2 separate regions of the Homo sapiens genome follow, and region 1 is linked to region 2. The links come from fine-mapping of genetic effects on gene expression. Tissue or cell type: whole blood. Region 2 holds a variant in brackets; the other region holds the start of a gene. All regions are shown on one strand. Distances are from middle to middle.

Region 1 (5,000 bases), 590 kb before region 2:
CTGCACAAAGGTCTAAGTTCTGCCCAGGTGGGCTTACCAGAAGTGCAAGTGAAGGGATGCACTTGGATTCTGTTCCTTGCTATAAAATGGCCGTCCTCACTGCTAAAGCATGACCTAATGATTGAATGGCCCAAGCTGTGACCAGGAGCTGAGAAGGGACAGTGGCAACAGATCTTTCTCACCATTATGGGTGGAGACTGACATGTGAAAAGAGGGAGTGGATGTTGCTCTTTTATTTTTTGAGTCTGTTAATATGACTTGTCCATTGAAGAACTATTGTAGATAATAATAGCTAACATTCAATGAGTGTTTCTATGTGTTAGGCCCTGTTAAGAATTTTTCATGAATTAACTCATTTAATCTTCACTTAACCGTATCTGGCAGACATGGTTTCAATCTCATGAGTTAAGAGTAATGCAGCCAGTAAATGGTAATGGTGGGATTTATACACAACAACCAGGTCCAAAGATGGAGCCCACATACATGACAACACCACATATTCCACTTTATTGCATCCATTGCTGACCACCAGCAGAGCTGAGGGAGAAGGCGGGTTCCTCTAAGACACTTGACAATACTTCTAAGATGTCTTTATGAATAGAAGAGAAAATTGAAGTTTGGCAATTGCACTGTTAAGCAGTTTATTAATAACCAGTGAACCAAAGAATGCTATTCTCCCAGCTTAGCAGAGGGAGCTCCTTAGTGGGATGTCATGTGGCATCTTAATATTTTAATGTAATCCATGGATATGGGGAGACACTGGATGCCTGAATTAAATCCTAAGGGACTTAGAGAAAGTGGATCAGGAACTTTGGTTCCAAAGATCAACTCCATGTTCCCGCACATGGCCTAACCGTAACACTGTAAAGAATTTCCAGTCTTCCCCTTGCACTCCTATCAACACTGAGATGTATTTGAGAAAAAAAAAAAAAGAGAGAGAGAGAGAAGATCTCAGGCTGTATTGTGTTTGCTAATGGTTAATTACGTAATTAATCTATAAGACTACTTTTTTTTCTTTTTTTCTTTTTTCTTTTTTTTTTTTAAAGGGCAGAGACAGATATTCTTCTGGGAGAAGATGGCTCAAATGAGAGAGACTTGAAGCCATGTCACATGAAGAAGAGTCAGAATAATTGAGGATGGTTAATCCTCAAAAGAGAGTGTTTAGGTAAAATTTGAGGGCTGACTTCAAAGATCTGAAAGACTACTTCATGGAGGAAAGATGTGAAGACCCGGGACCAAAGGTTACAGGGGAGTGGATTTGCATAATTGCTGTGCAAGGAGGGAACAATTATGACAGCTAATGTTTACTGAGTGCTCACCACGCATGCACTAAAGTTAAGGTCTTTATATGCCTTAGCTACAAGGTTGTAGATCAAATTCATACTTATCACTACAAGTGTCTCAGAGCATCGTTAGTAAAGGCTCCATTTACTGACTACTTATTAAATTACTTCATTTAATAGTTGGTGCTATTGACTTTTGTTATTATATCATTACTGTTTTATAGATGAGGAAATACAGAAGTTAAGTTGCTTTCCTGCAGTCACCCTGCTTTAGTTACTGGCTTATAACCATCTGGACCCAGGCACTCTTGATACTAATACTGCCTCCCAGAGTCATGCGTATAATAAGGAGTTAGATCAGAGCTGTTCATTAAAAGTATAAGGTGAGCCACTAATGAGAGCCTATGTGTAGCCTTACATTTTCTAGTAGCTACATCAGAAAATGTAAAAAGAAACTGGTGAAATTAATCTTATATATGCTTATATCTTAACCCAACACATGACGAATCCAACTGACTTACTACATCAGACTATTCTCATGTATTGCAATAATGTAATCAACATAAACATACTTAACAAGTTAGTTTACATTCATTTTAAAAATACTGAATTGTATGTCTGTTTTACACTTACAGAACATCTCAGGGATAGCCACATTTCAAGTGCTCAACAGCTGCCTGTGGCTCTTGAGGGGGAAGATCTTAAAAGGGAGCTTAGTTTTCCACCTTGATTCTGATGCCTCCCTGCCCCCGACTTATTTCCTTTGCCAATTAGAAGAAAATGCCGAACTGCCTTTGACTTTTCCGGTAGAGCCAATGTAGGTATTTCTGAACTGGGGGAGGACAGGTGGTTCGCCTGCAACCCTCTTCCCTCCTGCCAGCTAGGCTGGGAGTTAACGTTTTTGATTTCTGCTTTGAAAATGATTTAAGTAGGTTGCATGAATTAAGTAATTTATTCTAAATATCAAATTATGGGTGGAACGTCTTGCCTTATGCAAAGTTATGCAAAATTAGGAAGTCCCTGGCTTAATTGGTTAGAAATACATCTTGTAGTTTCAATTGCAGGGTTAGTAAATACATAGATGTCGACGGAGAGGGAGGAAACTTTTTTTTTTTTTTTTTGCCACTCTGTCCAAGGGTAGAGGCACAGCGTCAAAACAAACACGTCTTAAAGTAGCGTTCAAACAGCCCACCGAAGTTTCCCCTTAATATCCGGAACCGGTTGCCAAAAATTAAAAAAGGATGTGAAAAGATGCTACTCGCTTTTGGCCTCCCGGAGATGGCGCTATGAGGGTGACGGAGTTAATTAGTGCCTCCAAACGCCGTGTGTGAGCTCATCGAAGTCATGCTCTGCACACATATTATTTATAGCAGATCTGAGGCATGCATGGTGTTTGACATTTCTGTCTTTTAAGTAGGGGGACTTCAAAAAGTCGTGGGCATCCCCCTAGGCAAAGTGCAGTGGGCAGGGACCAGGCAGGGTGCGGGCGCAAGGCGAACGCGCAGACCACGAGTGTCCTGGCGCAGGTGCCGGGGGCGGCGGCTGCAACTCCGCAGCGTCCGCTCGGGAGGAGAGTTCGCGGCTGATCTCCGGATGCCTTGCAGATGCAAAATGTGTCTCTGGCCAGCAGGAGGAAGGAAGAGGAAGTGAGAGCAGCGGCAGCCGGCGGTGCAGCAGCCGGCCGACCCAGAGTGTAAGTGCGTGTGCTGGGGCGAGCGGGAGCGGGCGAGGATGGGCACAGGATAGAGGCAGAGCCACCCACGCCGCCGCGGCCCCACGCTGGGCGACAGAGCCTCCAGTTCCCCTTCAATGGTGGCGGGTCGCCGGAGCTCTGATCGCCGGGAACCCTTGCCGCTGCTGTCCTGCGACCCCAAGCAGGTTCGTAAAGTTTCCTGGGCTGGCGCCGCGCCCCGACTCGCTGACCTCGGCGCGGCAGGGGAGGGGGCCGGGACTGGGGCCGGGAGGAGGCGTCCTGCTCCGGGGGACTCCGGGCGCCGCGGAGACACTTTTGTTTCCTCCCTGGGGGCGCCGCGGCTCGGGCGGGGGTGGCCGCCGCGCTCGGCAGGGTGAGGGCTGCGGGCGCGTCGGGGCGCTCTGCAGTTGGGGAAGTCTGAGCTCCGGGGATGGCGGGAGTGGGAGTGGGAGCGGAGGGAGGGGGCGCTGGAGGTGCGGCGCCCGCGGATGAAGCGCAGGGCCCGGGGCCCGGGAGCCCGCCGAGACATTTCGACCAGGGTCTGCGGGAGGGGGGGCGCGGGAGGGTTGCGACGCTGGCGCGGGGTTACTGGGGACGGGGGATGTGGGGCTGGGATCTTGGAGTCAAGATTCCTATAGAGCTAGAGAAGCGGCTGCGGCTCAGACTCGGCGTCTTCTCCTGCACTCGGGGATGGGAGGGAATCCCCCGGCGAGCGCGCTCGTGGGAGGGGGCGGTGATGGGCCAGAGGAATGGGGGCCAGGAGGGCCGGAGAGGGCGGTCTGGGCAGCCGGGAGCCCCTGAGGTTCTGGTTAGTAAATACTCTCCTCCCGGGGACACACCGGGGTCTCCGCCGAGACCGAGAGAGGCGGCGGGGAGCTTTGTGGAGCTTCGTGGAAATCTCGGCTTCGGAGAGGGGACGCACCGGGCGCGCCTTCAGAGAAGGGGGCGGCGGCATGCCAGGGGGCCCGGGAATCGGAGCGGAGAGTGGCGACTGCGATCGCCGGAGTCGCTTTGAGGAAGAGGAAATACAGAACTCAGCTGTCCCGGGGGTGCGCGCGTGTGTTTGGGGTTGGGAAGTCGGTGCTGTGCCGCGAGCGCGCGCGAGGCGGCGTGTGTGTGTGTGTGTGTGTGTGTGTGTGTGTGTGGTGTGTGCGCGCGCGCGTATGTATGTGTGTGTGGTGTGTCGTCGGTGTGTGTGTGAGTGTGTGTGTGTGGGGGGGGTGTTGTGGGTGTGTGTGTGAGTCGGTGTGTGTGTGTGTGACCGCACAGCCAGGAACTCCCCGCCCAGTGACCCTCTCCCGCCTAGGGGGCCATTTGAAGTTGGAGGCGGGTCGGGACCTGCCTTGACCTAAAGGACCAGCCTCAGGCTTGGTCCCAGGTAGTGACCCAGCTCTGAGAGTCCCTGGACGGCTCCCGAGACTCAGTGAATATATTTGGGATGCCCCCCGCGCTGGATCATGGGCTTCCCAACACCGCTGGCCTTGAATGATTCGGGCCTAATTCGTTATGGTTAAGATTTCAGATAATCTAAGACGGGTTGAGGCCTCCAGAAGCGGAGGCTTCCTGTTGGGCGCTGCCAGTGACTTGGGGATGAAGCTATGGAAGAATATCTGAGTGTTTCTCTTTTGCTTCTATAAAAGTAATTAATGACCTGTATTTACACACCAAAACCCTGCGAGCAACTTTGGGACATAGAGGGATATAATCCTTCTCAGAATCACTTTGAGATTGCAAAAACCGGCAGCAGCTATTATTGGGGTCTCCTCTGGCCAGGGTTCTCATATTATCTCACCTCCATGCCTACTTTCCAAGGTTGTTTCAAGCATTAATGTCCCATAATTTACAGATCTGGGGGAAAATAATGGTAAGTTAGGAGGCCAGATCCCCTGCAGAAACATCACATATTTTTAATTTTTCTTATAGCTGACCTTTTGAAGCTTTACTCTTTATTATTGTACATTTCCTATCTCTGGAAGGCTGTGGTTAAATGTGCATGCTGCCTTGTTTCTACTCTGTTTTGTTTG
Region 2 (6,299 bases):
CGGGGGTGATAATTTATGAGATAATGTTATCTTTTCTCAAGAAAAATATAGAAAGAAATTTTACTTAAGAAAAATAGACCTGCCTGAAAAAATGATGAACCAAGGGGCATCTTGCTGACTTGGAGGAGAATAGAAACCTCTTGACAAACTGCCCGTTGCAACAGATTCAACTTCTTAGTAGCTTGATTGATAGTTCATGGTAAAGAAAAAGGATGTAAAAGGCCTCAAATGCAGCAAAGGTATACTTGTTAATCCAGAGAAAGAAGCGGCCCTGGTTACAGCTTTGGTTTTCATTGAATTTTTCGTTTTTGGTCTGGATTTTCCCAAGATAAACTGGTCTCTCTTCTTTAAAACATCTGAGGAAGTAGGTTTTCTACCAAATTTCTTTAAGCTATTTTAAGAGGTTTAGGGCTGTCTCTGCTGTTGGGATTTTATTTTCGAGATGCTTTTATTCCTTTCTGACATCTTGTTATATGTATAATTTGTTTCTCTTCTTGTAGCACGCTGTCAGCTATATTTAAAATATTTAGCATAAATCTAGGAAAATGCATTTGTAAGATAAAGTAGCAGTTATGGCTGATTTAACTTTCTTTTATAAACTGGAACCCAACATCATGCTTGAAACTTTTATTTTTAGATGATACCATTCAAATTTTTGTTTTGCGTGTGGTTGCATAAACAGCTTTAGAAAGGAAGAGAACATTTTAATAGAATCTGACTTTTGTTCCCCATTTCCCCTAGGACATTTAGCTCATTTAGAAGTTATTCAGTATCTAGTTTTCACTGGTTTGAAGCTTTTGAATAAAATTGTATATCCCAAAGAGAGAGGAAAGATTAGACACAAATCCTGCATTTAGAACGGTGCTTAAATATAATTCTGTGTCACTTGACATTTAGTTTGCTGAAGGGTAAGACTTTGTCTTCATCTTTCTGAAAATAGATACTGTGTTCTACTGTTTCTGTTTTTAAATAAAATTGTGGTTCTACACAGGCCACCATATTCAAGATGTATAGAGCTGTGTACAAAACTACTTAAAATAGTAGAACTTTGGATGTTATTTAAATCTCTGCAAGGCTGTTTTCCCCAGTGTACATTAATTCCAGATCAGGATAAATGCTCTGGGACTGCCAGATTTTTATTCATATCTGCCACTTCTTATAGATACAATGAAGAGAAAAATGCCATATGCTTGTGAACACTTTTAATTACTTCAGACCACTTTCCTTCTATTACCTCATTTTATTTCCATAATTATTCCATACAATAGAAAGTTCTATTACAGACATTCTCATTTATCAAATGAGCACGGAGAGACCTCCCAGAACTGAATACCTCAACAATAGAAAGGTTAACACAGTTGGCCCTTGAATAGCATGGGGGTTATGGGCACCAAACCCCCCACACAGTTGAAAATCTGCCCATAACTTTTGACTCCCCAAAAACTTAACTGTCAGTAGCCTACTGTTGACCAGAAAGAAGCCTTCCCCATAGCATAAGCAGTTGATTCACACACATTTTGTATGTTATGTGGATTTTATACTGTATTCTTCCAATAAGGTAAGCTAGGGAAAAGAAAATGTTAAGAAAGTCATAAGGAAGAGAAAATATGTTTACTATTCATTAAGTGGAAGAGGATCATCATAAAAGTCTTCATCCTCATTGTCTTCACATTGAGTAGGATGAGGGAGAAGGAAGAGGACGGGTTGGTCTTGAGGTCTCAGGGGTGGCAGAGGCTAGAGAGGTGGAAGAGGTGGAAGGGGAAGCAGGAGAGACAGGCACACTTGGTATAAGTTTTATTGAAGAAAAAAATCCATGTATAAGTGACCCACACAGTTAAAACCCATGTTGTTCAAGGGTCAACTGTAAGTATAACGACCCTGGCTTACTCTCTGCCAGGCACCATTAATGCTTTATATGTATATTTCACCCCAGTTAACCCTCATATAACTCTAAAAGAATCCCCATTTAAAAGAGGGAAATGAGGCAAGAGAGCTTAAGAAACGTGTCCAGGGTCACACAAGTAGTAAGAGGACAGAGCTGGAATTTAAACACTGGCAGTCTTGCTCCAGAAGCCCTACACTTAACCCCTGCACTGTGGAGCTAGGAAGAGAAAGAGCAGACACTGAGCTCGCACATTCCTGGCAGGCCCATCACTCAGTTTCTACAATCACCAACTCATGGCCAATCTGGTTCACCTGTGCTCCCATCCACTCTTCCACCATCACCCAGCTGCCACCCCTGATTATTTTGAAGCAAATCTGGATATCATTTTATGTATAAATGTTCCTGTATGCATTTCCCAACAATAAAGACTCAATTTAAAACCATAACTGCAATACCCTGATCACACTTAAATAAATTAATAATGTGGTATTTATTTATTAAACCATGTGCAGTCAGTTTTCAGATGTCTCTAATTGTCTCATTTGTGTTTTTTTCTTTCATACTTTGTTCAAGTCAGAATGCAAATAAGATCCATGCATTGCAGTTGGTTGACATGTTTCCTAGGTTTCTCTGAATCTACAGGTTTCTCTTTCTCTCTCTCTGTCTCTCACAATCATGAGCATGTGCCTTTTTTCCTTGAAATTTATTTATTGGGAAAAACAGGTCATTAGACCTGTAATGTTAATAGTCTAGACTGTGCTGGTTATAACTTTATGTATTAGCTTACTGTTGCTATTGTAACAAACTGCCACAAACTTAGTGTTAAAGAACACAAATTTATTATCTTCGAATTCTGGACTTCAGAAGTCAAATGTGAGTATCCTGGGCTAAAATCAAGGTATCAGCAGGGCTGTGTTCCTTTCTGGAGGCTCTAGGGAAGAATTTTCCCTTGTCTTTTTCACTCAAGAGTCCACCTGCACTCCTTGGCCTCCATCCATTGCAATGGCTGGTTGAACCTTTTCATCACCTCACTTCAGCCTCCTCTTTCGTACTCAGATCTCCCTCTACCTCTCACTTCTCTGACTCTGACTCTGACTCTTCTTCTGTTTCCTTCTCTCACTTTTAAGGACCTTTGGGATTACATTGGGCCTGCCTGGATAATCCAAGATAATCTCTGTTTTAAGGTCAGCGGATAGCAACCTTAAGTCCCTTTTCCATGGAACCTGACATATTCACAGGATCCAGGGAGTAGGATGTGGGTGTCTTTGGAAGGCGGGTATTATTTTTCCCACCGCAATCTGCAATATAATTCATATATTCATCGGTCCCCTGTATGTCTTGTGAATTGTAGTTAAAGGATTAATCAAATTCAGGCTCCCTTTCTAAGCAGCAGCAGTGGTGTTTGTACTTTCATGGTGACTTCTTGCTCCCCTTTCTTGGATATTAGCAGCCAACAATGATCGTTGTCTGGATCCTTGGAACCATTAGAGGTTGCAAAAGGTTGATATCCTAATTTTATTATTCCTTCTTTATTAAAGGGATATATAAAGAGAAACTGGCCTCATCAACTATTTGGTTATCCTAAAGTTATACAATTTACATATGGTAGGCAGGATAAATACTTGATTCTCTTTACCAGTTTTCAAAATAGTAAGCATCTTTCAAAGAAGAACAATGAGGCATTTGGGGGCAGGGGTTGAGTAGGAAATCATGCTTTTAAACAGAATTGTGTCTCAATATGTTGCAGTTACTGTCGTTATTAGTTTCTAAGTTATCCTGTCTGGAACAAGTAGGAACACCATTGGGTTGGCATCTGAGTCCTATTGGGAGGACCCCTTACGTCTTTGATAACTTTCTGGCATTCTGGTATGATGGAGTGTTCCAGGTTTATCTTTATGTTTCCTGCCTTTTCTCTGTGAAGCCTTGATTACTTGTAGTGGGAAATGATATTTAGTGACCAGAATCTAAGCATGAGTTGTGTTTATGGTCATTGCACACCACGATGCAGTGGTTCTTGGTTGGTCATTATTTTTTAGCCCTTTTTGGGGACAGAGCTAGGTGGTTTTCTTTTAAGATAAACTAATGAATTGATACTGATAGTTCCAACTCAAATTCAGTATCAGTACTACAGGGTTTTTATTTATTGGTCGATGTACTTTCACATAAAATTTTCTGTGCCTGTTGTTTCTAAAAAGAAACGTGCTGCAGAAGTGTTCCTGTGGGTTAAACTAATCTATACTAGGAAGCTAGCCAGGCCTGGGAAGGCTGTGTGAAAAGAACAGTAATCCCCAGGACTTGGGGATTTACCATGAAACAGCATGAAAGCTGGAAGGGGCCTTTGAGAATGTAGAGTTCAGTGGCACCCGTACCTGCGTGTTCGTTAGAGTTTTCTAGGAAGCAAAGTCTCCTCACCCTAGA[T/G]CTACATGATCAGGATCTCCAAGGTAGGAGCTAGGTGTCTACTTCTGTCAAGGTTATTTATGAAGAAATTGATGGTTAGACATGTTCAGAATCAGATCATGAGGACACTAATTCTTCCGGAAATCCCTTAACACTAAATTGATGTTTCGATGGGTTAAATGCTTTGGCTGAGATCACATAGCCAAGGTAGAACCAAAGCCCTCCAAATCAATGCTGCCCTCCTGAAACACAGATCTCATAATACACCCATTGTGCATCTCCTCAGCTTAAAAAGGAGGACCGCTGATGTGCATCACGGAAGATTTCCATCACATCATGGTGACTGGAGATTTATATAGTGCTTGCAGTATACTTTGGTTACTTTTACGTTGAGATCTGCTACCATGGAATACAGTCCAGATAACCACAGTGCCAAAGTAGGTTAAAGAGGGTCTGGAATTGCCGCTTGAACTAGTGAGGCAGAAAAGTTGGGAATCTGGAGTGCATGGTAGAAGGAAGACCACTTCAACAGAAGAGGAGAACAATTGCTGTTATAGAATCCTATATAGGACTACTAGAAACCTAAACTCCAGTGCATGAGTGGAGCCCAGCATCCAGAATGCCAAGCAGCTTTCTGAGATGCTGGCATCAGGGGTGCCTCTTTCACCAGGTGTCATGGTTCTCTGTCCATGTCAGTACAGAACTCCAGCCTCTGGGAGGGGAAGCTAAGAAGAGAAAAGCAGGTCCTCAGACAAGGCACAGTTCTTCCTTCTCCCTCACAGAGATCATAGTCTCCTGGAGAGACAAAAGGCTATGAAAGGAGAAGAATCAGACTCTTAGTTGGGTACTGTGAAGGGCTTTCCAAAACAGATAATATCCCCAAGTATGAGGCCCCAGAGACCTGGTGAAAAGAAACCTTAGGAACTAGAGACAAAGGCTAAAGAGGTCCCCAGACAGGCAGCCAACCCTCCTCCCATTAAGATTGCCCAATAATTTTAACCATTTTGGCTGCCAGACACTGGGCAGCATAAGCCTATTTCCTAGCCCTTTAGCTGAGAAACACCAAGGTGGGACTGCCATTGGCCATTGGCTCCAGGGTGGGACAGGGCTGTCATTGTGAATGCTAGGATCAGACAGGACAGGCCGAGATGAGCTACTAGACTAGGAGCCATGACTGGAGTCAGCAAAGAAACCTGCTTCACCTGATGTTGAGTCCAGGGCTGTTCGGTAGATTCCACCAGTACCTAAAAGTCATAGACTCCCACCTAGGTGTTACATTGCAAGTCATGGAGAACTCCAATCCTCAGCTGTTACAGAGAAGCATTCTTTGCAAAGAAGAGCACAGGCACTGGAGTCAGATTGCCTGGGTTCAAATCCCACCCGGTCTACATAATACTGAGTCACTTCTCTGTACCTCAGTTCCTTCACCTATAAAACAGAGATAACAGAAGTATCGACTTTATATTGAGATGTCGCCAAATATGAAATGACGAAGTAGGCAGAGCCCTTAGCGCACAGCCTACTGAGGGATGAGTATTCACTGTTAGCTATTTTTACTATTAATACTTCTGTAATTGCCACCAGTAATGATCGCTGTTGCCTCCCTTCCTGCCAGTACTGTATCTGGACGGATGGACTGAATGCGCTACTCGGGAAGGACATGATGAGCGACCTGACGCGGAATGACCTGGACACCCTGCTCAGCATGGAAATCAAGCTCCGCCTCCTGGACCTGGAAAACATCCAGATCCCTGACGCACCTCCGCCGATTCCCAAGGAGCCCAGCAACTATGACTTCGTCTATGACTGTAACTGAAGTGGCCGGGCCCAGACATGCCCCTTCCAAAACTGGAACACCTAGCTAACAGGAGAGAGGAATGAAAACACACCCACGCCTTGGAACCGTCCTTTGGTAAAGGGAAGCTGTGGGTCCACATTCCCTTCAGCATCACCTCTAGCCCTGGCAACTTTCAGCCCCTAGCTGGCATCTTGCTCACCGCCCTGATTCTGTTCCTCG

Evidence for each region. PIP is the estimated chance that this variant, and not a neighbour inherited with it, causes the effect.
Region 1: ELMO1 starts here. The variant in region 2 is fine-mapped to the expression of ELMO1 in whole blood (TOPMed, PIP 0.97).

The regions. Positions count from the first base shown.
Region 1 is chr7:37,446,836-37,451,835 of GRCh38, reverse strand. It overlaps ELMO1 (engulfment and cell motility 1), which reads left to right and starts at 2,972. Exons shown (of 22, transcript NM_014800.11): 1 at 2,972-3,161. RefSeq lists silencers at 3,223-3,272, 3,283-3,332.
Region 2 is chr7:36,855,350-36,861,648 of GRCh38, reverse strand. ELMO1 (engulfment and cell motility 1) reads left to right here. Exons shown (of 22, transcript NM_014800.11): 22 at 5,898-6,299. The coding sequence ends at 6,098. Among named protein-coding and RNA genes, the nearest start is that of MIR1200, 61 kb to the left of the region's middle. The variant T/G (reference allele first, on the strand shown) is at 4,304.